3 separate regions of the Homo sapiens genome follow, and regions 1 and 2 are each linked to region 3. Evidence: fine-mapped expression QTL. A gene starts in region 3. Each other region holds a variant in brackets. All regions are shown on one strand. Distances are between the middles of the regions. Region 1 has its middle 58 kb from the start of LINC01907. Region 2 overlaps CAB39 (calcium binding protein 39). Region 3 holds the start of CAB39 (calcium binding protein 39).

What was found. PIP is the estimated chance that this variant, and not a neighbour inherited with it, causes the effect.
Region 1: its variant is the best candidate, but not a certain one, in a credible set for the expression of CAB39 in whole blood (TOPMed, PIP 0.63).
Region 2: its variant is the best candidate, but not a certain one, in a credible set for the expression of CAB39 in whole blood (INTERVAL, PIP 0.54).

What each region holds. Positions count from the first base shown.
Region 1 is chr2:230,638,176-230,646,358 of GRCh38, reverse strand. No RefSeq gene overlaps it. Among named protein-coding and RNA genes, the nearest start is that of LINC01907, 58 kb to the left of the region's middle. RefSeq lists an enhancer at 1,727-1,896. The variant G/A (reference allele first, on the strand shown) is at 3,209.
Region 2 is chr2:230,770,713-230,778,895 of GRCh38, reverse strand. The region is part of intron 2 of CAB39 (calcium binding protein 39); the gene reads right to left. Among named protein-coding and RNA genes, the nearest start is that of CAB39, 62 kb to the right of the region's middle. RefSeq lists an enhancer at 4,008-4,302. The variant T/C (reference allele first, on the strand shown) is at 4,982.
Region 3 is chr2:230,709,136-230,717,318 of GRCh38, reverse strand. It overlaps CAB39 (calcium binding protein 39), which reads right to left and starts at 4,477. Exons shown (of 9, transcript NM_016289.4): 1 at 4,089-4,477. It overlaps LOC124907996 (formin-like protein 16), which reads left to right and starts at 3,993. Exons shown (of 4, transcript XM_047446832.1): 1 at 3,993-5,240. The coding sequence starts at 3,993. The coding sequence ends at 4,751. RefSeq lists a silencer at 3,766-4,705.

The DNA.
Region 1 (8,183 bases), 71 kb after region 3:
AGGAATGAGAATAAAGCATGAGAAAATATAGGGGGGTAGATAGGGAACTGGAGGATGGACTTCTGGCCTCCATGGACTCACAGAAGCTGAGCCACCGCTCCTTCTCCTCGTGCCTGCCCTTCTCCCAGCTAGTCTGGCTCTAACTTAAAGTTCCATTTCCCAGATTTCCATTTGCCCATGATGCACTGGGAGCCTGGTAAGTGACTGAGGAGTGGAGAGAGGCAATAGAAAGCTTTGGGGGAAAGCCCACAGATCCTTGAAAACACAGACACTCCATGTTTTCTAGTCTGGAACATCACTTTCAGAATCTGCCTGTCACTGAGCTTTCTTAGGCATGAACCGAAGCAGGAACGTCCCACCCTTTATTCTGTGAGTTAAGACTCGGCTGCAAAAGTTGCTGGATACAAAGTCTATATATAAGAATCAATGGGATTTTTACAAACTAGAAACAAACCAGTAGAAATAATTTTTCTCGGCCGGGCGCAGTGGCTCACATGCATAATCCCAGAACTTTGGGAGGCTGAGGTGGGCGGATCACCTGATGTAGGAAGTTCGAGACCAGCCCGGCCAACATGGCGAAACTCCGTCTCTACTAAAAATACAAAAATAAGCCGGGCGTGGTGGCGCATGCCTGTAATCCCAGCTACTTGGGAGGCTGAGGCAGGAGAATCCCTTGAACCCAGGAGTTGGAGGTTGCAGTGAGCCGAGATCGTGCCACTGCACTCCAGCCTGGACAACAGAACAAGACTCCGTCTCAAAAAAAAAAAAAATTTCCCCTTTTTTTTTTTTTGAGAGAGTCTCGCCCTGTCAGCCAGGCTGGAGTGCAGTGGTACGATCTCATCTCACTGCTACCCTCTCCTCCTGGGTTCAAGTGATTCTCATGCCTGTGCCTCAGCCTCCTGAGTAGCTGGGATTACAGACACCTACAATCACACCTGGCTAATTTTCATATTTTTAGTAGAGATGGGGTTTTACCATGTTAGCCAGGCTGGTCTCGAATTCCTGATCCCAAGTGATCTGCCTGCCTCGGCCTCCCAAAGTGCTGGGATTACAGGAGTGAGCCACTGCACCTGGCCAGTCTTTCTTTCAAATTTTAGAGACAGGGTCTTGCTGTATCGCCCAGGCTGGAGTACAATAGCTCTTTACAGGCACAGTCATAGAACACTGCAGTCTTGAACTCTTGGCTTCAAGCAATCTTCCTGCCTCAGCCTCTTGAATAGCTCAGATTACAGGTGTGCACCATTGTGCCAGCCAGAAATGATTTTTTTTTTTTTTTTGGAGTCGTGCAATCGTGGCTCATTACAGCCTCAACTTCTGGGGCTCAAGTGATCCTCCCACCTCAGCCTCCTGAGTAGCTGGGATTATAGGCGTGTGCCACCATACCTGGCTAATTTTTAAGATTTTTTTGTAGAGACAAGGTCTCTGTGTTGCCCAGGCTGGTTTTGAACTCCTAGGCTCAAGAAATCTGCCCGCCTCCCAAAGTGCTGGGATTATAGGTGTGAGCCACCATGCATGCTCCAGAAATAAAAAATTTTAAGGAAGTATTATGTAGAACAACCAGGGCTGGGACTGGAATGAGGCAAGAGAGGTATCTAAGACACAAAATTGTGAGGAGGCATTCACTCTCCTCTTCTCTTGCCTCACCCTACTCCTGCACTTGAGAAACTATCAGAAAGGGTAGGGCGCAAGGGCACCATGGCTCATGCCTGTAATCCCGCCACTTTGGGAGGCCGAGGTGGGCAGATCACTTGAGGCTAGGAGTTAGAGACCAGCCTGGCCACGATGGTGAAACTCTGTCTCTGCTAAAAATACAAAAATTAGCTGGGTGTGGTGGTGAGCTCCTGTGGTCCCAGCTACTCGGGAGCCTGAGGTGGGAGGATCACCTGAGCCCAGGGAGGTCAAGGCTGCAGTGAGCCAGGATGGTGTCACTGCACTCTGGCCTTGGTGACAGAGTGAGACCCTGTCTCAAAAAAGAAAAAAAAAAAGAAAAAAGACTGAATTTTACTGTAGGTAGATTACACTTTAATTTTTAAAAAAGGAAAAAACAAAGTAAGGCCCTTGGGCTATTGGAAACTAGCTACCCTGACGTAGATCAGCCAAAGTACCCCAGCTCTATAAGCTCACTTCATGTGAGCTCGAGCCCTGTATGCACTTTGCCCCACTCTTAAAGGCACCATGGGAGGAAACGGAAAGTTCAAGAGGCAGGAAGAAGTCAGAAGAGCCATGTGATGAGTATCTAACTGTATTTAGCTTCAGTTTCAAGATGTGGTGAACATGCAGAAGAGAATGAAAAACTCCCACTGCCTCTTGTCCCCAGGTTTTAGGCAGGAAACTTGATTATGAGTAAAATAATTGAGTGATTGGTTTATTGGATAGACAAGTGACAGGAAACATCCCACCCCCGCTCCCGTGTCCCCTGCCCTCCTGCCCACTCAAACCTGCTGTTTGACATCATCTTGTCTATTTCTGCTGTCTTGGTTTGGGTGTCCCTGGAAACAGACCCTGAGACGTGAACTGGGTATAAATAGTGAGGAAGTAAGATAGGAAAGGGAATGGGCCATTAAAGAGTGAGTTTTCAGACCAGAGGTCACAGCATTATCCCGACTGAGGGGCAGGAAGCTGTGGTACTTACCCAATGACTTCCTGTCCCTCCTTGGTTGAAGACTACTTCCAGGCACTTGACCACTCCAGCACTTCCTGTTTGCCTTGCTCAAGCGTTGAGCACCCTCCCTGGCCAGATAAAAGCTGTTGGGCAGAGGCTCGGGTATTGGCAATACAAGGCCTTCCTGCGTAGGTTGAATGCCCGGGATGTGGGCACAACAGTGCTCACTAGACCTGGTTAAAATCTGGGGATGGCCCACAGTTTTTCCAGGACCTTTTAGTTATAAGAACAGACTCCTTTTAATAATTAAAAAAAGTCTTATCTCTTCTAATATTCAATATTTTATCCTACTAACGCCCTCTACCCTGCTTCAGCTGGGGCCTGTCTTAGTCCAGGAACTGTGGGGAGTGGTCTGATCGCTTTTCTGACTCTCAACCTCTGGTCTCCTTCGCCACCTGTTCTTTTGGTCTCTGCAGGACTAGAGTGGGCAGGGGAAGAGAGGTGAGGGGCAGGAAGGGCTTTGGTTGACCTGCTCTGTTGTAATTTTAAGTGGGAACTCCAGGGAACTGGATGACACCTCCTGCTGCCCAATTGATCACCAATGCA[G/A]GGTCCCTGCTTTCTGGTTCATTCCCCTGCTTTACTTGCAGCAAGTTCTCCTGGGCAGAGTCTCTCTCAAGGAGACCTGGCCCAGCTCCTTTCAGCGAGCCCATCTCTGGCCTCTGGGAGATGCACATCCATCCTTGTCCCACCAGGCTCTGGAAGTGCAGGCCCTTTCCACCACCGTCATGTCTCTTCCTGTATTTGCCAAGCAGGGTGAGTTCCAGCCATGGCCTCCAGGCTATAGATTCTTTGGGTGTGGCTTCAGTCCCGAGTCCTTCGTGTCTATCTCTCCAAGGGATTCCTTATTTTTTAATTTTTAAATTTATTTTTATTTTTTGAGATGGAGTCTCGCTCTGTAGCCCAGGCTGGAGTGCAATGGCGTGATCTTGGCTCACTGCAACCTCTACCTCCCGGGTTCAAGTGATTCTCCTGCCTCAGCCTTCCAAGTAGCTGGGATTACAGGCGTGTGCCACCATGCACAGCTGATTTTGTATTTTTAGTAGAGATGGGGTTGCATCATGTTGGTTAGGCTGGTCTCGAACTCCTGACCTCAGGTGATCCACTCGCCTCAGCCTCCTAAAGTGCTGGGATTACAGGCACGAGCCCCTGCAGCCAGCCTCCAGTGGATTCTTTTAAAGCCCCTCACTTGGCTTGAGATGGTACAATCTGCCCTGTGTTGCCAGCTTGTCAGCTGGGAAGCTTTGGGCTGCAAGAATGCCAGATCTCAGTTAAACTGGTTTAACTATAAAGCCTTTGACTGTAAGACATTCAATGTTTCAGGGCAGACTGATCTTGCGGTTTTAAGACATCTCCCATGACCCAGGACCTTTGAGTCTCTCTGCTCTGTTGCCCACCCTGTTGGCTGCATCTGAAGATGGCTGTTGCCAGATGTAATCCAAGCCTTATGCTTTCTGGTTCATGTCTAGTGGCTCACATCCTTCTCGAGGAGCCCTCTGTCCCACTATTCTAAGAGAGAGTGCTGAGAGCCACTCCGATCGGCCCAGTTAAAGATGTGTCCACCTCCAAACCAACGACTTATGGAGGATAAAATAAAAAATGCTGATTGGCTAAGCCATCTCAATGGTTTCCTGTATGCAGAAGGGGTAAACGTACAAACGAAAATTTGGGTATTGTTAGGAAGAGGGGAATGGATGCTGAGTAGACAACTGCATTAGTTTCCTGGGGCTGCCGTAACAAAGTACAGTCATGCATCGCCTAACAACGGATACGTTCTGAGAAATGCATCATGAGATTTCATCATTGTGTGAACATCATAGGTTGTATTTACACTAATCTAGATGGTGTAGCCTACTGCTGGTACCTAGCACACCTAGGCTACATGGTGTAGCCTACTGCTCCCACGCTATGAACCTGGACAGCATGTTACTGTATTGAATACTGCAGGCAATTGTAGCACAATGGTATTTTGTATATCTGTTTTCTTTTGTTTCTTTCTTTTTTTTTTTTTTAGACGGAGTCTCGCTCTGTTGCCCATGCTGTAGGGCAGTGGCGCTACCTCGGCTCACTGCAACCTCCGCCTCCCAGGTTCAAGAGATTCTCCTGCCTCAGTCTCCCGAGTAGCTGGGACTATAGGCATGCACCACCACGCCCAGCTAATTTTTGTGTTTTTAGTAGAGATAGGGTGTCACTGTGTTGGCCAGGATGGTCGTGATCTCTTGACCTCATGATCTGCCCACCTTGGCCTCCCAAAGTGCTGGGATTACAGGGGTGAGCCACCACGCCCGGCCCAATTTTTATTTTTATAGCCTATTTTTACTGTAATTTTCTATGTTTAGATATACAAAATACCACCGGGTGTGGTGGCTCACACCTGTAATCCCAGCACTTTGGGAGGCTGAGGTGGGCGGATCACGAGGGCAGGAGATCCAGACCATCCTGGCTAACATGGTGAAACCCCGTCTCTACTAAAAATACAAAAAATTAGCCGGGCTTGGCAGCAGGCGACTGTAGTCCCAGCTACTTGGGAAGCTGAGGCAGGAGAATCACTTGAACCCGGGAGGCAGAGGTTGCAGTGAGCCAAGATCACATCACTGTACTCCAGCCTGGGGACAGAGTGAGACTCCATCTCAAAATAAATACATAAATAAATAAATAAATAATAAAAATAAAATTTCGTACACCTCTATAGGGCACGTGCCATGAGTGGAGCTTCCAGGACTGGAAGTTGCTCTGGGTGAGTCGGTGAGTGACTGATAAATGAATGTGAAGGCCTAGGACATTACTGTGCACTGCTGTAGACCTTATAAACACTGTACATTCGGCTACAGTAAACTTATAAAAAATAAAGTAATTGCACAACAATGTACAATGGTTATGATATCATTAGACAATAAAAATTTTTTCAGCTTCATTATAATCTTATGGGACAAGCATTGTGTATATGATTCATTGTTAACCTAAACATTGTTACTCGGCACCAGACTGTACCCAAAACTGGGTGGCTTAAAATAATAGAGATTTATTGTTTCACAGTCCTGGAAGCTAGAAATCTGAGCTAAAGACGTCAGCAGGTGGTGCTCCCTGGGGGAGAACGCTTCCTTGTTTCTCACAGCTTCTGGTGTTGCTAGCAACCCTTGGGGGTTTTTTTTGTTTGTTTTTTTTTTGAGATCGAGTCTCCCTCTGTCACCCAGGCTAGAGTGCAATGGCGCGCTCTCAGCTCACTGCAACCTCTGCCTCCTGGGTTCAAGGGATTCTCCTGCCTCAGCCTCCTGAGTAGCTGGGACTACAGGCATGTGCCACCATGCCCAGCTAATTTTTGTATTTTTAGTAGAGACGGGATTTCACTATGTTGGCCAGGCTGGTCTTGAACTCCTGACTTCAAGTGATCCATCCGCCTTGGCCTCCGAAAGTGCTGGGATTACAGGTGTGAGCCACCACTCCCGGCCGGCAACCCTTGGCATTTCTTGTCTTGCAGCTGTACTGCTCCAGTCTCATGCCATCTTCTCCCCGTGTGTCTTCACATTATTTTCGCTCTGCATATGTCTGTGCTCACAGAGTTTTCCCTTATAGGACATCAGCCATATTGGATTAGAGGCCCGCCCTACTCAAGTATGACCTTGCCTTAACTAATCTGCAGTGACCCTATTTCCAAAACGGTTATGTTCTGAGGTAGTGGAAGTTAGGGCTTCAATATATCTTTTTTTGGGGACACAATTGAACTCATGACAACAACAAACATCTACTTAAAACTATTCTCACAGCCAGGCACTGTGGCTCATGCCTTTAATCCCAGCACTTTGGGAGGCTAAGGCAGGAGGATGGTTTGAGGCCTGGAGTTCAAGATCAGCCTGGGCAACAACATAGTAAGGTCTTGACTCGCCAAAAAAAAAAAAGCTTATGCCTGTAATCCCAGCACTTTGGGAGGCTGAGGCGGGTGGATTGCGAGGTCTGGAGTTCGAGATCAGCCTGGCCAACAAGGTGAAACCTGTCTCTACTACTACTAAAAATACAAAAAATTAGCCAGGCATGGTGGTGCGTGCCTGTAATCCCAGGTACTTGTGGGGCTGAGGCAGGGGAATCGCTTTAACTCAGGAGGCGGAGGTTGCAATGAGTGAAGATTGCACCATTGCACTCCAGCCTGGGCGACAGAACAAGACCCCGTCTCAAAAAAAAAAAAAAAAAAAAAAATTAGCCAGGTGTGGTGGTGTATGCCTGTAGTCCCAGCTATTTGGGGAGGCTGAGGAGGGAGGACTGCCTGAACCTAGAAGTTCAAGGTTACAGTGGGCCATGATTACACTATTGCACACTAGCTTGGGCAACAGAGTGAGACGCTGTCTCAAAAAAACAAAAAAGCAATTCTGGATTTAATGTGATGAATAAATTACATGATTAAATTAAACAATATTGTGACTGGGCGTGGTGGCTCCTGCCTATAATCCCAGCACTTTGGGAGGCTGAGGCGGGTGGATCACCTGAGATCGGGAGTTTGAGACCAGCCTGACCAACATGGAGAAACCCCATCTCTACTAAAAATACAAAATTAGCTGGGTGTGGTGGTGCATGCCTGTAATCCCATCTACTCAGTGGGCTGAGGCAGGAGAATTGCTTGAACCCGTGAAGCAGAGGTTGCGGTGAGCTGAGATTGCACCATTGCACTCCAGCCTGGGCAACAAGAGCGAAACTCCATCTCAAAAAACAAACAAACAAACAAACAAACAAAAAAACCCCAAAAACCCAAAACCAAAAACCACAAAACAATATTGTGCAAAATAAGCTATGTGAATCGTTTCTTTTTTTTTTGGAGACAGGGTCTTGCTCTGTCACCCAGGCTGGAGTGCAGTGGCATAATCATGGCTCGCTGCAGCCTTGAACTTCTAAGCTCCAGCAATCCTGCATCCTCCCGCCTCACCCTCTCAAGTAGTTGGGACTACAGGCATGTACCACCACACCTGGCTAACTTTTAAATTTGTTTTGTAGAGAAAAGGCCTCACTATGTTGCCCAGGCTGATCTCAAATTCCCGGGCTCAAGTGATCCTCCCACCTGGGCCTCCCAAAATGCTGAGATAATGAGTGTGAGCCACCATGCCTGACCAATCTTGTCTATTTCTTATCAGCAGTTTTACTTAAAAGAAATATTGACCATTTCTGAAGTTATTAAAAAATATATGTTATCTATTCCGAAGAGAAATTTCAAAGAGGAGTATCAAAAATATTTTTACTGGTCAGGCATGGTGGCACACGTCTGTAATCCCTACTCAGCTACTCAGCTACTCAGGAGGCTGAGGCACGAGAATCGCTTGAATCTGGGAGGTGGAGGTTTCAGTGAGCCGAGATCACACCTCTGCACTCCAGCCTGGGTGACTGAGCAAGACTCCATCTCAAAAAGCAAAACAAAACATACTTTTTATTATTGCAGCATCATTAGAATACAGGCAAAGCCTCCAAAGGGTAGCATGGTGGGCACTCATTTGGATGAATACCTTCTGGTGAGTTCGGGAATAGTCACTCATTCTCCTCCAAG
Region 2 (8,183 bases), 62 kb before region 3:
TATTTTTGCTGTACCTTTTCTATGTTTAGATAAACAAATACTTGCCATTGTGTTCCAACTGCCTACAGTATTCGCTATAGTAACAAGCTACACAGATTTGTAGCCTAGGAGCAACAGGCTGGAAGAAATCGCCTAATGATGCATTTTTTGGAATGTATCCCTGTTGTTAAGTAACGTGTAACAGGACTTCAAATTTTTAAGGATAGAGTCCATAATAACCTCTTCAAGTAGCACTAAGGCTATGAGATTTTTCACTGCCTGCTTTCCCATTAAAAAATAAAACAGGGTGGGAAAATAAGCAATTAGTAAGCTAAACATTAGTACAAATGGCCTTTTCAGAGATCACCAAAACCTCAGGAGGTTTCGTATTAACTCTCTTGACTTAAATCCAATATTCCCACGGTACCTATCAGTGCACTATTTTACTGTCACTAGAGGCAATTGCTGATAAAAAGTAGTGATACAAAAGTACAATTTCAGAAGACTCGAGAAGACAGCTCACATACCCATTAGTGCTTCTATGCAATGTCCTTGAAGTACTCACAGCCCTTACCAACACTCCTCCTCTGGACTCAAGCACTCAGTAGATCCAAACCGGCCTTACGTTAGGAAACAAGGTGACAAGAAGGCTACTTCCACATGAAGGGACAGGACTTTACTTGGTGAGATACAAGACTGGGCTGCCCTCTTCACTGTCCCCAATTTTTAGTAGTTAGTAGCAATTCTAACCTCAATATAGAAAGCACACTTAAAGACAAACATAGTAACATGCTGAAGTATACAAATGGCTAAGTCAGACATTAAAAACCTTACAAAAGATTCTATTTCATAGTAATAGTAACAATCTTAAAAGGATAAAATATTCTTCCTTCTTATCAGAGGCAAAGGCTTTTAGATACGCCACTGGTAGGAAAATAAATTGGTACAACTTTACTGGAGGGCAATTTGGCAAAATGTTATTGAAGAGTTTTAAAAGGTGCAAGGCCTCTGACTCATTTCTGCAACTTCCTGTGAATTATACTTTCAGGAATTTACCCTATGGAAACAGACAAGTACACAAAGGTAAGTACATGCAGTGTTACTTACAACAGCAAAGAATTAGAAGTAAAAGTTATCCCACTGAACTAGTTTAATCATTACGTACCCATAAAATGGAAGAACCACGGCAGGCTTTAAAAATAATTGAGGGCCAGGGGTGGTGGCTCACACCTGTAATCCCAGCACTTTGGGAGGTGGTCAAGGTGGCGATCACTTGAGGTCAGGAGTTCAAGACCAGCCTGGCCAACATGGTGAAACCCCATCTCTATTAAAAATATGAAAATCAGCCAGGTACCTGTAATCCCAGCTACTTGGGAGGCTGAGGCACAAGAATTGCTTGAACCTGGGAGGCAGAAGTTGCAGTGAGCTGAGATTATGCCACTGCACTCCAGCCTGGGTGACAGAGCAAGACTCCATATTTAAAAAAAAAAAAACAAAATTGAGATCTATATGCACATGAAAAGATGTTAAAATTTAAAATTAAAAAAAAAAAAACAAAAAAAACACCAACAGGTTACAGAGCAGCATGACCCCATACTCATTTACTTATCTGCCCCAGAGAGAGGGAGAAAACAAGCTAGAATATGAATGAGAATCCCCACCAAGTTAACAGTAGTCATTTCACGTGGTACTGAATTAAGGATAAACTTAATTTTTTTCTTTATAGTCTTGTATTTTCTGCTTTTTGGGGGAATGAACATACATCATATACATCATTAGAACATGACTTTGTATAGATACAGAAATAAATTAGAATCTATGAAGGAAACAAAGATCTTTCTCGCACACACTCATACACACTTCCCTACTACACAATGTAGAATTCCAATATACTAGTTAGAATAAAGTAAAACTAAAAAAGTGGATGAAAGGCCAGGTGCGGTGGCTCAAGCCTGTAATCTCAGCACTTTAAGAGGCTGAGGCGGGCGGATCATGAGGTCAGGAGATCGAGACCATCCTGGCTAATACGGTGAAACCCCGTCTCAACTAAAAATACAAAAAATTAGCCGGGCGTGGCAGGCGCCTGTAGTCCCAGCTACTGGGGAGGCTGAGGCAGTAGAATGGCATGAACCCAGGAGGTGGAGCTTGCAGTGAGCCGAGATCGTGCCACCGCATGCCAGCCTGGGTGACAGAGCGAGACTCCATCTCGGGGGGGGAAGAAAAAAAGTGGATGAAGTGAGACAGAGCACCTGGAACCATGACCTACTTGTTTCTCCAGAGCAATGAACTAGTGACACTCACAACCACTTGTGTGGATCTCATGGGAATGATGCTGAGTGGAAGAAAGCCCATCTCAAAAGTTTACACACTATATGATTCTATTTATTTAACATTCTTGAAGTAATAAAATGTATAGACTTGGAGAACAGATAAGTGTGATGCAATTGCATAGAGCTATATGCATATCCACACAAACTGTAAAACTGGTGAAATCTGAACAAGCCCTGTGGATTATACCAATGTCAATGCTCTGGTTTTGATATTGTATATAGTTATGTGAGAGGTTACCACTGGGGATATGGGTGAAAGGTACATGGGTTCTCCTGTACTCATTTCAGCAACTTCCTGTGAATTAATTAATTTCAAAATAAACAAAACAAAGTAAGGCAACATAAGACTTCTATAGCGTAAGACCTCTTGCACTCCCCCTCAGTATACCCTTAGGTTGTCTATAAGGCCCTTTTCATTCTACCAAAGCTTGTTTCTCTAGTCTTACTTCCTACCATTCCTCTTTATCTCCACCTCTTAAAGTCACACTGAACTTGTCACTGTTTTCTGAACATGCCATAGGTTGTTTCAAATTCTGTTCCCTTTCACACTTTGCCTGCCAAAAACCTTAAAAATCAGCTTAAACGTCACTTCAAACCTGTCATCTCTGTATCTGTCTCTGACAGACGTAGGAACTGCTTTATCCTCTTGGTTCCCACAGAATTTTATCTGCGCCCCCAAGTCCCTCTATATTATATTATTTACATGTGTATCTCCTCTACTGGATTATATACTTTTTTAAGAACGGGGACAAGGTTTGACTCCTATGCCTATCTGCCCACACAGAGAGGCACTAAAATGTCTGTGGATTCAATCAAACTGGGGATCTCTTGCAAGAGATAATGATGCAAGTAAAGACAGTAGACAACAACAAAGGCAACCATGCATGAGGAAAACGTTAACTCCAATGCGCACCACTGTTAAGTCATCTTTTTAGAAATAATTTTGAAGGGATCTATTTAGCAAAATTTTCCATACCTGTGTTCATTAGTTTACATAACTGAATTGATTCTAACTTACATATAACTAGTTATTGTTAAGAAATGCCTCAAAGAGGCCAGGTGTGGTGGTTCATGCCTGTAATCCCAGCACTTTGGGAGGCCACAGTGGGAGGATCACCAGGTCAGGAGATCAAGACCATCCTGGTCAACATGGGGAAACCATGTCTCTACTAAAAACACAAAAATTAGCTGGGCATGGCAACGCATGCCTGTAATCCCAGCAACTCAGGAGGCTGAGGCAGGAGAACCAGTTGAACCCGGGAGGCGGAGGTTGCGGTGAGCCGAGATCACACCACTACACTCCAGCCTCGCAACAGAGCTAGAGTCTGTTTCAAAAAAAAAAAAAGAAAAAAGAAAAAAAGAAATGCCTTAAAGAGCTCAGATTTGGGGGGAATGATGAGGCTTAAATTATTATTTTTTGTTTTTTTTGAGTTTCTTTAAACCCAATCTTTAACAAAAGAATCATTTTAAACAAGAGTCCTCTAAATATTTACCCATTTATATTTACTGCCTGAAATATCAATTCATTCTACAAGAAGAGATTAAATGACCTTGTTGAAAAAAGAAAGTTCTATATCAAAGTAAATGAAGACCAAGATGTGAAATGGAATCTAAAAGTGAACTGACAGATACTGTTGGTGCCAAGTATTTGATAATAAGAACAATTCTATTATCACATTAATTCCAGTGATAAATGCTTTCTACCTCCCCCAACCCCCACCTCTTTACTAAAGAAAATGTCTGCATAGTCTAAGCTGAATGATCATGGACTAAGGAAAGTCTATTAATAACCTTCTGGTGTCCAAGATTACTGTAAACAAGTTTAGTAACCATGAGTCACTGTTAAATGGCCATGCTATGAAGAGGCTACTCCCTTTCCCCCCTCTTAAAATATGTCAGCAAACTTACTCCTCTCATGAAATGAGTGAATATAGCTATTCAACCCTGTGAACACAAGCATTCATCGTAAGGAAGGGAACCACCTATAAGCTGAGCAAGGCAGCCATACCTCCTTTATACAGCATGTGGTGGGCGAAGAGTGCGTAAATAGTCCCCACATACACCACATCTGTTTGGTTGTTGGCAGTGAAAGACTAAGTCCCACCCCACCCCTGCCCCTAGTTACCTAAAAATAAGGATGGTAACATTAACCGCTTTTTTAAAATGTAAGAAAATTAGTTTTGTATGAATTCTTTTAAAAGAATTAGTCTCCTAAGAGACTAATCTATTTGTATCATACACAATTCTTAATGTGGTAACTATGTACCATATAAAACAAATACAAATACCAACATATAACAAATAAAGGAATAAACACTCAAATGTTATATTTATCATTTTGTCTGTGAGATCACAAGAAATGGATGGAAAAAGCCCAGGGACATAATGAATAAAGTGGAAAAAGGCATAATTTTACCATGGATTTGGCAGAGCTAGGTGTGAATTCCGTCTTTGACTCTAATATAATGAGTCAAAGTAATAAGCCTAGTAAATAACAGCTTTCTTCATCTGGATCACGGGAAACCAGAATCAATTCTATCTCAAAATAAGATGGGGGACTCTATACAAAGGCACCTTGCAAAGTATGGTGGTATATCGATGTAAGGATATGTCAACAGTGCAAAGCTTGAATTCCTTCTAGAATACTTAACTAAGTGGTCACCTAGTCCATG[T/C]CAATACCTCTTCAGAAACAGAAAACTTGCTGTCTTCTGAAAAAGTCAGCTTCCACTTACTGTTTTTCCTAATATCAAGACAAAATTGGACTTCTTGTTTTATTTCCACTCATGGGTCTGAATTCTACCTCCTGCCACGATCAGTTCGAATCCTTTTGTTACATTATATGGTCTCCCAAATACATTTTACTAAGAGCAAATCCGCCCTACAACATTACTCTGCTCAAATCTTCTCCCTAGGCTGTACCTCACATCTTGAGGTCATTCAACTGTTCCTCACAGTAGAGTTTTGAATTTCTATGTCAGCCTGGTCACTCCTCTCTTGGCACACTGCAGTTTCTCTACATCCTCAAGTGTGGACTTGCCTATACAGAGTAGAAGATAATCGCTGAATTTCAATAGTGTATTTCAAGTATTGCAATCTAGCCTTCCAATGGCCTTTCTGGGTGCTTTATGGTTTCTAAGCCACATCTGCCCCAGTTGGTACATAAACAGTCTTTTTTTATTCACTACTGAGTTATAAATGACATACAATGAACTCCACATATTTAAAGTACCTAATGTAACACACACACACACACACACACACACACACACACATATATATATATATATACACATACACCCATGAAACCATCAAGATAGTGAACACCTCTGTAACCACCAAAACCGTAACCACCAAAAGCTTTATGCTCCTTTGTGGTTCCCTCCCTCTACCATGCAACCCTTCCCCTAAACATCTTTATCAAAGCTAAAGCAACCACTGATCTGCTTTCTGTAATTATGGATTAGCTTTGTTTTCTAGAGTTTTGTGCAAATAGAATCATATACTATGTGCTCTTTATAGTCTGGCTTCTTTTGTTCAACATAATCACTTTGAGATTCATCCATGCTGTTGTATACAGCAATAGTTTTTTTTTTTTTTTTTTTTTATTGCTGAGTAGTACTCTGTTACATGGATGTACTACAGTTGGTTTATCCACACGTCTGGGCCATTTACAAATAAGGCCGCTATGAACATTTAAGCAAAAGTCTTTTCATGAACATATATTTCTTGTTCTCTTGGGTAAATACTTAAATGGCTAGATCATATGGTTGGTTCGAGTTTGGTTTAAAAAGCTGCCAAACTAGGCCAGGCGTGGTGTCTCACGCCTGTAATCCCAGCACTTTGGGAGGCCGAAGCAGGCAGATCACGAGGTCAGGAGATCGACACCATCCTGGCTAACACGGTGAAACCCCGTCTCTACTAAAAAATACAAAAAATTAGCCAGGCGTCTTGGTGGGCACCTGTAGTCCCAGCTACTTGGGAGGCTGAGGCAGGAGAATGGTGTGAACCAGGGAGGTGGAGCTTGCAGTGAGCCGAGACTGTGCCACTGCACTCCAGCCTGGGCAACAGAGTGAGACTTCGTCTCAAAAAAAAAAAAAAACCTGCCAAACTATTTTCCAAAGTAGTCATACCATCTTATATTCCCACAAGCAGTTCCAGCTGCTCTGTATCCTTGCCAACATTTGGTATAGTCAATATTTTCCATTTTAGCCACTCTAATAGCTGTGTAGTGGAATCTCCTTATGGTTTTACTACACAATTTCCTAATGATTAACATCTTTTCAAGGGCTTATTTGACATCTGCCTATCTCCTTTGGTGAAATGCATATATGAGTATCTTGCCCACTCTTAACTGGATTGTTTCTAACTGTTAAATTCTGAGAATTCTTTATATATTCTAGATGCAGTCTTTTATCAGATATATGCTTTGCAGACTTTCTTCCAGTTTGTGGTTTGTCTTTTTCATTCTTCTAACAGTGTCTTCTGAAGAGCAGGTTTTAATTTTTATGAATTCCATTTATCATTTTTTTTAAAATGAATTGTGCTTTTTGCATAACATCCAAAAATTATTTGCCTAACCCAAGGTCACAAAGATTTTCTTCTGGCAACTTTATAATTTTAGGTCTTACATTTGGCTATGTGATCCATTTTGAGTTAATTTTTAAATATGGTATGAGGTCTGAGTCCTATCTTTCTGCCTACTAAATAGTTTCAGCACCAATTGTTGAAACAACTACCTTCTTTCTGCACAACTGCATTTATGCCTTTGTCAAAAATCAATGTTCCATACATGTGTAGGTCTATTTCTGCACCCCAATCTGTTCCATTAATATATCTATCTTTGCACTGACACCACACTGTTTTAACAACCGTAGCTTTTTAAGTCTAGAAATCAGACAGTGTGAGCCCTCCAACTTTGTTTTAATTAGTTATTTTGATTACTCCAGGTCTTTTGCACTTCCATTCAAATTTTAGAACAAACTCTTTGATTTAAAAATCCTGCTGGAATTGCACAGAATCTCTAGATACATCTGGAGAGAAGTGACATTTTAACAATATTGAGTTTCCCAACCCATGAACAACATGTATCTCCTGCTTATTTGGGCTAATTTCTCTTAGCAGTATCTTGCAGGTTTCAGTGTACAACTCTTTCACTTCCTTTGTCAGATTTATCCCTATTTCATGTTTTTATGCTATTCTAAATGGTATTTTTAGCATTTCATATTTTTTGATGCTATTCTAAATGCTAGTTTTTTTCTTTTTCTTTTTTTCCATTCTTTTTTCCCAATTACACCTAACACTCTTGAATACAAGGTATTTTTAAATTTCAATTTTGGACTGTTCATTGCTACTATACAGAAATACAACTGATTTCTGTATATTGACCTTATAACCTGTGACTCGCTAAACTTATTTACTAGTCTACTAGTTGTGTAGATTCCTTCAGTTTTTCTATGTAGATGATCATGTCATTTACAAATCAAAAGTTTTACTGCTTTCTTTTCAATCTGAATGCCTTTAATTTATTTTTATTGCCTGACTGCATAGGCTAGAACCTCCAAGTACGAAGTTGAATAGTTGTGGTGAAAGTAGATATCCCTGTCGTCTTCTTGATCTCAGAGATAACATGACTTAGCCTTTCACCATATGTATAATGCTAGCTGTAGGATTTTTGCAGATGCCCTTTATCAGCTTGAGAAAATTCCCTTCCTCTATTTCTAGTTTGCTGAGATTATTTTTTTTATCAGGAATAGATGCTGGTTTTTTTCCCCTTTTCATCAATTGACATGTACTTTTTCAATATAGTGAATTATACTGATTAACTTTGTAATGTTATACTAGCTCTGCATTCTAGGAATAAATCCCACTTGGTCT
Region 3 (8,183 bases):
ACTGATGACTAAATTGCTATGCAAATTTAGATTACCTGACTTCATAATAATGCCAGATCTTTACACCTCAGTAATAACAAGTCACAAGTAATTTAACCCAGAGATTCAGATTTGATATTTTTTCCCCACAATTTTATCAAAGTGTGTAAAAAAAAATGTTTACCAGTTTTTCTGTTATCCAAATTAATCCACCTTCCACAGTCCCATTTCTGTAACATGTAAAGACGTTCATAAAATCAAATGCCCAATTAAAAGAAGCAATGAAAAAGAGGAAAATGAATTTTTATTTTTATTATTTTTATTTTATATATACATTTTTTGAGATGGGGTATCACTCTGTCACCTCAGGCTGCAATGCAGTGATCAAAATTCACTGAGGCTGCAAATTCCTGGGCTCAGGCAATCCCTCCTGCCTCAGCCTCTTGAGTAGCTAGGACAACAGGCACACACACCACCATGCCCGGCTAATTTTTTATTTTTGTGGATATAGGGTCTTGCTATGTTGCTCAGATCGGCCTCCAACTCTTGGGCTCAAGCAATCCTCCCACCTTGGCCTCCCAAAGCACTGGGATTATAGGAGTGAGCTACCCCGCTCGGCCTGACCTTTTAAAATAGGGCTGGAGGCCAGTGTGGTCAGGCCTATAATCCCAGTGCTTTGGGAGGCTGGGGCAGGAGGATGGCATAAGCCCAGGAGTTCAAGACCAGCCTGGGCAACAGAATGAGACACCATCTCTTTTAATTAAAACATTTTTTAAATTAAAAAATAAAATAGAGCTGGAATAGAAACAATGCCAGAAAGGTAAACAAAAGACAATACCTGAAACAAAATTCGTCCTACTACTGAATTTTATTTTTGGGGGTTGGGGAGGTTGGATTTGTGTATTTTCATGGCAGATGGCTAAACTGTGAGTGATTAGTCATCAATCTGGAAAAAAGGCTCTTGGGAAAGTATGGCAATAACTAAAGAAATCTGTAATCCCACAAAAGTTGATCAAAACAGAAAACTTTAGTAAATATTCCAAGGTAATAAAGACCCTGTGTGGCATACGTATTTGCAATATACAAACATTCAAATAAAATCAAGTTACCAAACCCCATACTTATACTGGACTTTCTTAGCAGTTCTTCTACATTAACTTTAGGAAACGTATACAGCCTTACTCAGCATCTTACTTCATACGTGATGAAACAGAAACAGAGATCTTATTAATACACCTTAGAATGTAAAATACATGGGAAAAAACTGACTTAGTACAAGAACCTGAAGTAGAAAATGCTAATGAAGGGAAGTAAGCTGCCTTGAAATAAAAAAACAGATATCCAGGCAAGCGTGGTGGCTCACGCCTGTAATCCCTGCACTTTGGGAGGACAAGGCGAGATTACTTGAGCCCAGCAGTTCAAGACCAGCCTGGGAAACATGGCAAGACCCTGTCTCTATAAAAATACAAAAATTAGCCGGATGTGATGGTACGAGCCTGTGGTCCCGTCTACAGGAGGCTGAGGTGAGAGGATGGCTTGAGCCCAGGAGGTTGAGGTTGCAGTGAGCCATGTTCGCACCACTGCACTCCGGCCTGAGCGACCGAGTGAGAACCTGTCTCAAAAAACAAAACAAAACCAAAAAGGCAAATACCACCCATTTGTTATAGTAGCAAACCATTTCATGAAATATTCTATGCTTATATCCAGCCTGAGTCTTCGTGATGTCATGTTCAAAAAATAGTTAACCTATATGGATGGCCCTAGTGTAGAGACTATTTTTCAGGAGCGAAGTGGGGAGTGGGAAGGGACACTGCATCGCCGTCTGTGGGGGATGGTATACCAGCCATGACAGTAATCTTTTGACAACATCCCTTTAAAAGTCCATTCACTCCTATAGCAGAGATCTGTGTGCTTTCTTCCTCTTCCACACCTCATGACAACACACATCCTGCCAAGAAAAACTTTATTCAACAAGCAAGAGGATCCAAGTCTTACAGAGAAAGAAACATACTTCAAACAAGAAACTTTCAGAAAAAGTTCTGTCCACACTAGTAGTTATTAAGCCTAACTACTGCATTTCATCTGAGGTAAATAATACAACCTTGTCAGGAAAACATAACATGCTTAGAAGACTTCCATTGTTGAGTAAAAATTTTTTATATGAAGATATTTAATGACAAGAAAAGCTTAATAAGAGATGTGTGTGTGTATACATATGCATACAATATATTTCATTATGCAAAGAAAAAATACACAGAAAAAGACTGGAAAGAAAATACGCAAAAATGTTAGCAGTAACCAAATCTAAGTGGTAAGATTATAGAAAATGTTTTAAAGATTTTCTAGCACTCCCTGAATTTTGGAAGCTTTGACAAAGATCATGTATTATTTTGAAAAGCAGAAAATTTTTAAACTGCAAAAAGGTGGCATTCACTTGTCATACACGCAAACAAGTGCAAGCTTACAAAACTTAGGCCCTAAGCTGCTTTCACAGATCGTATATTCTAGATTTCGAATACAGCTGCTAATTACTTCCTAACAATTTGAACAAACTACAAAATAAAGCTAAACACTTTCACTTCTGGCTCTACTATAAAGATTTCATAATAAAATAAAATATAAAAACAAAGTTTTACCTTTCTGTAAAAGGTCTACGTCTGGCTTTCTACAGCAGAATATTACTAACCATTTTTTAAAAATCATCAATTTATGTTATTTTACACAAATGCCACCTCAAAGAATGTAGGTTTAGCTTAGTAATTCCAAAGTACATACGCCTAATACAAAGTGCAAGAAGTTTTTATGCACTGTAGCGAACGCACAAATAGAAACACCTTCTGTGTGCAGATGAGCTTATTTTATAGACACCTTTCCATTACCTCTTAAGAGCCTGATATCTAATGAAGCTTTCTGCAAAGGTACTTTGCTTAGCCTGGGCATGGATTTACTTGATTATCTGGGAAGCTGTCAAAATCGATCTGAAACTGCATTACATTCAAGGCACAGAATGTCAACTCCTGACTGGGCCTCCTCCTCTCTCCTTTCACAAGAGCGCCTTTAATATCCCCTAGCCTACATTTCCGGGCTCATGAGTCACTGAGAAATGAGCTCTAAGTTTCTCTTAGAATGCTGCTCAAATAGCTCCTCTACAGCATTCAAGGATCTGGCCCCAAAATACCTCTTTAGCCCAATACCCCCCGCCCCCTGCACCATGCCAACAAACGGAATTATCCATGATTTCTAGGCTTTGTCTTCTCGCTTTTGCTACCCCTTCCACACACCTCTTCTGCAATCCTCCTCTCCTAAATCCCATCAGGCCTTCAAGACTCTGCTCAGCATCCCCCGCCCAGGAAGCCTTCCAGGTTTCTGCGAGGCAGAAGTGATCGGTTCGGTTTTTCCGGGTGCCGTTCTAGCACTCCGTCGTTCTTTCACAGGACTTATCACCTCCTTCCCGGTATCGCAGTTATTTGTGTTCTCGTCTTATCTCTCACACCAGAGCCTAAGCTCCTCGGGGGAGGGGACCGGGGCCCGCTTCACCTTTGAATCCCTCCGGTGCGGGCCGACTACGGCGCCTGCACGCAGTCTGCGCTTGGGGTGGTTCCATTGAACTCCAGAACGCTCCGACCGCCCAATTCCTAACCAGAAATCAGTTAGGCATTTTCCTGAATTGGTCACAAAGCTGGTATCTGCCTCCCGACAACAGGAAGTTTACCAGGGGCGGGAGCGAGGCGCTGAAGCCCGGGTGCAGCCGGTGACAGTTGACCCGGCCCGCACTTCCCCGCCCGCCCGACTCCGGCCCGGACCACCACGCGCCGCCAGCCCCGCCAGAGAACCACGGGGGGAGAGGCAGGAGCGCCTGGACTGCAGGCCCCCGGGCGCCCCACGCCGGCGAAGGCAAAGGGAGCGTCTCAGCGAGGGACCGGAGCCGAGCCGGGCGGAGAGGGCAGGCTGGGCCCGGCTGCTCCCGGGGGCTCCGGGGACAAGCTGGGCCGGGGCCGCCGCCACCCAGGAAAATGGAGGCAGCCCCGGGGCCGGTGAGGGCCCAGCGGGGCAGGCGGAAGCCGGGCAGGCGTCCGCACCACGAGCAGGGCCGGCCGGGGGTCACTCACGGGGCTGGGCCGGGCGTTCCCTTCTCTGCCTCCGCGTCGTCGCTGTCCCCGTCCTCGGCCGCCGCCGCTTCGGGCTGCTCGTTCGGTCCCCGCGGAGTGGCTCGGACGCTCGGCCCCTCCGTTGTCTTCCGCCCGCTCCTGCTCCCGGCGACGGGCTCCCGCGGCGGCGGCGGCTGCGCGGGCGGACGGCTGCCCAGGGGCTCCCGCGGCTGCCGCCGCGCTGCTGCGCTCGCTTGGGCTGCGGCTGCTGCTGTGGGGCCCGGCGCCGCCTTAGTCTTCGCCTGTGCCCCCGCCCCGGCGCCTGAAGGCTCTGTGTCTCCCAGGCCGCGCCGCTCCCCGAACCCCTCGCCCCGCTTGCGGCCCGAGCCCGGCTTTGACGTGCGCACTGCGCAGCCGCCGAGGACGCGACGTCGGGCGGTGCCGCAACGCCCCCTTCCGCCTCGGGCGCCCCCGAGCGGCCGGCGGACTCAGGGCGCCGCAAGTAGGCGCGAGGCCCGAGCGGGAGGGGCCGCAGAGAAAAGCAGAAGCCAAGCCCCGCAGTTCCTCTTCCTCCGCCGCAGCTTCCAAGGCGGGGCTCAGCCCTTTCTCCTCCGCCTGAGCGCTCTTACTGCGGGAATCGCACGCCCACTTTCAACGACCACTTCCTCAACTCTTCAAGCTTAATTCTGCGAGAGGCCGGGATCCCACTTTGTGCAGACCGATTCTTACTTTCTTGGAGCAGATCGCTTCATTTTAGCATCCAGGGGGACACAGCATCCAGGGGGACAAGTGCCAGAACGTTCCAGATTAATGGGAATATTCCTATTTAAATCAGCAACCTGGATTTAAGTCCTGCTCCACCATTTGCTATCTATGGGCTGTTTCACGTCCCTGTGCCTGGATTTCCTCACACATTAAAAAAAAAAGTGTGTAATAATATAGTGGTACCAGCCACGGGCTTCTGAGGATGAACGGGACAGTGCATTGCAAAGCTCTGACAACGGAGCCTGGCACATACAAATGCCATATGTGTGTATTTTTGTTTCTTTGTTTTTAATGTGTAACTGAACTACTTTTTAAGCGCCTCCTGTACGTCAGGGATGGGGCAGTGAGCGAAACAGTCCATGCTCCTAGCACAAACAGTTGACAAATAATTGACTAATAAACCTACAGGTATGTATAATACTGGACAATTGGGCCAGGCGCGGTGGCTCACGCCTGTAATCCCAGCACTTTGGGAGGCCGAGGTGGGCGGATCACGAGGTCAGGAGTTCAAGACCAGCCTGGCCAACACCGTGAAACCCCATCTCTACTAAAAATACAAAAAACAATTAGCCGGGCGTGGTGGCGGGCGTCTGTATTCCCAGGTACTTAGGAGGCTGAGGCAGGAGAATCGCTTGAACCCGGGAGGCGGAGGTTACAGTGAGCCGAGATCGCGCCACTGCACTCCAGCCTGGGCGACGCAGCGAGACTATCTCCAAAAAACAAAAACAAAACAAACAAAAAACAACAACAAAAAAACAAATACTGGACAGTTAAAAACACCACTGGGTGAGGAGGGGAGAGAAAGCAGGGTGTTGTTATTTACAGTGTTCATTCAGGGAGCAGCTTCCTGGAGAGAGAGAGCCTGGGAGCTTTCTGTATGGAAAGGCAGAGGGAATAGCAGGACCAAGGCCCTGAGGCGAGAATCTGCTGGCTTGAAAGCGGCCCCAGATAGGGGAAGAGATGAGGAAGAAGTGCGGCCCTACCAACCAAAGTTAGGACTTCCTGTTTTTACTCTCAAGGAGATGGGAAGCAATTTGAAGGGTTGCGAGCAGAGAAAGGACGTGGAATGACATTTCAGGAGGATCCCTGTGGCTGTGGTATGAGGACCAGACTGAAAGCCCTGAGGGTTTCAGCAGGGGGACCAGCGAGAAGCCTGTTGAAATCAGCCAGCCAAAAGATAAGACTGTCCGGCCGGGCGTGGTGGCTCGCACCTGTAACCCCAGCACTTTGGAAGGCCGAAGCAGGGGGATCACCTGAGGTCAGGAGTTCGAGACCAGTCTGACCAGTATGTTGAAACCCCGTCTCTACTACAAATACAAAAATAACCCCAGCTACTTGGGAGGCTGAGGCTGGAGAATTGCTTGAACCCGGGAGGCGGAGGTTGCAGTGAGCCGAAATCGCGCCACTGCACTCCAGCCTGGGCGATAGAGGGAGACTCCATCTCAAAAAAAAAAAAAAAAAAAAAAAAAGATAAGGCTCTGTCCAGGGTGGTGGCAGTAGAAGAGTAAAATGATCACCTGTAGACACGTTTAAAAGGTGGCTCACGCCTGGAATCCCAACACTTTGGGAGTCCAAGGTGGGAGGATCATTTGAGGTCAGTTCGAGATCACCATGCCCAACATGGTGAAACCCTGTCTCTACTAAAAACACAAAAATTAGCTGGGCATGGTGGCGGGCACCTGTAATCCCAGCTATTCGGGAGGCTGAGACAGGAGAATCGCTTGAACCCGGGAGGCAAAGGTTGCAGTAAGGGGAGATTGCAATGAGCCAAGATTGTGCCACTGCACTCCAGCCTGGGCAATAGAGCAGTACTCAGTCTCAATAATAATAATAATAATAAAAGGTGGCTCACGCTTGTAATCCCACCACTTTGGGAGGCAGAGGAGGAAGGATCACTTGAGGCCAGGAGTTGGAGACCAGTCTGGGCAACATAGTGAGACTCCTGTCTCTAGAAAAAAAAATTAGCCAGGCGTGGTAGCATGTGCCTGTAGTCCCAGCTACTCCAGAGGCTGAGGTGGGAGGATCACTTAAGCCTGGAGAGTCGGGGCTACGGTGAGCTGTGACTGTGCCACTGTCACTCCAGCCTGGGCCACAGAGTGAGACCCTGACTCAAGAAAAAAAATAAATAAATAAAGGGTAAAGCTAAAAGGATTTTCCTGATTTCTAATTTTTTTTTTTCTCAAGCAACTGGAAAATACAATTTGGTGATATGGGGAAAATTTAAGCAGAAACAGATGTGAAGGGAGGAACTTGGAAATTTACTTAGGGACATACAAAGTTTGAGCTGCCTGTTGGACACCCAAGTTGGAAGTTGGACTTAAGAGTTCAGAGGAGAAGTCCTGGCGCGGTGGCTCACGCCTGTAATCCTAGCACTTTGGGAGGCTGAGGCAGGCGGATCACCTGTGGTCAGGAGTTGGAGACCAGCCTGACTAACATGGTGAAACCCCGTCTCTAATAAAAATACAAAAATTAGCCGGGTGTGGTGGCGTGCGCCAGTGGTCCGAGCTACTCTGGAGACTGAGGCAGGAGAATTGCTTGAACCTGGGAGGCAGAGGTTGCATTGAGCTGAGATTGCGCCACTGCACTCCAGTCTGGGTGACAGAGCGAGACTCGGCTCAAAAAAAAAAAAAAAAAAAAAAAAAGAAGACTTCAGAGGAGAAGTCTGGGCCACAGACAGAATTTAGGTGGTTCTCAGAGTAGGTAAAACCTCTGAATTCAGTGAGATCCTTTAGGATGTGAGTGTTACTACTAAGCCCAGTCCCCCAACAATGACAGGTCAGGGAATGGTAAGGAACCAGCAAAGAACCCTGAGAGGGAGGAGCCAGTTTGGTAGGAAGAGATCCAGGAAAATCTGGCCAGGTGAGGGGGCTCATGCCTATAATCCTGGCACCTTGAGAGGCAGAGGCAGGTGGATCACTTGAGGCCAGGAGGTCGAAACTAGTCTGGCCAACATGGTGAAACCCCATCTCTACCAAAAATACAAAAATTAGCAGGGCGTGGTGTTGCATGGCTGTAATCCCAGCTATTCCGGAGAGTGAGGCAGGAGAATTGCTTGAACCCAGGAGATGGAGGTTTCAGTGAGCTGAGATCACACCACTGCCGTCCAGCCTGGGTGACAGAGGGAGACTATGTTAAAAAAAAAAAAAAGAAAGAGAAGGAAAGAAGATCTCAGGTGATCCACTCAGGTGATCTCTACTAAATACAAAAAATTAGCCAGGCGTGGTGGCACATGCCTATAATCCCAGCTACTTGGGAGGCTGAGGCAGGAGAATCGCTTGAACCTGGGAGTTGGAAGTTGCAGTGAGCCGAGATTGTGCCGTTGCACTCCAGCCTGGGCAACAAGAGTGAGAC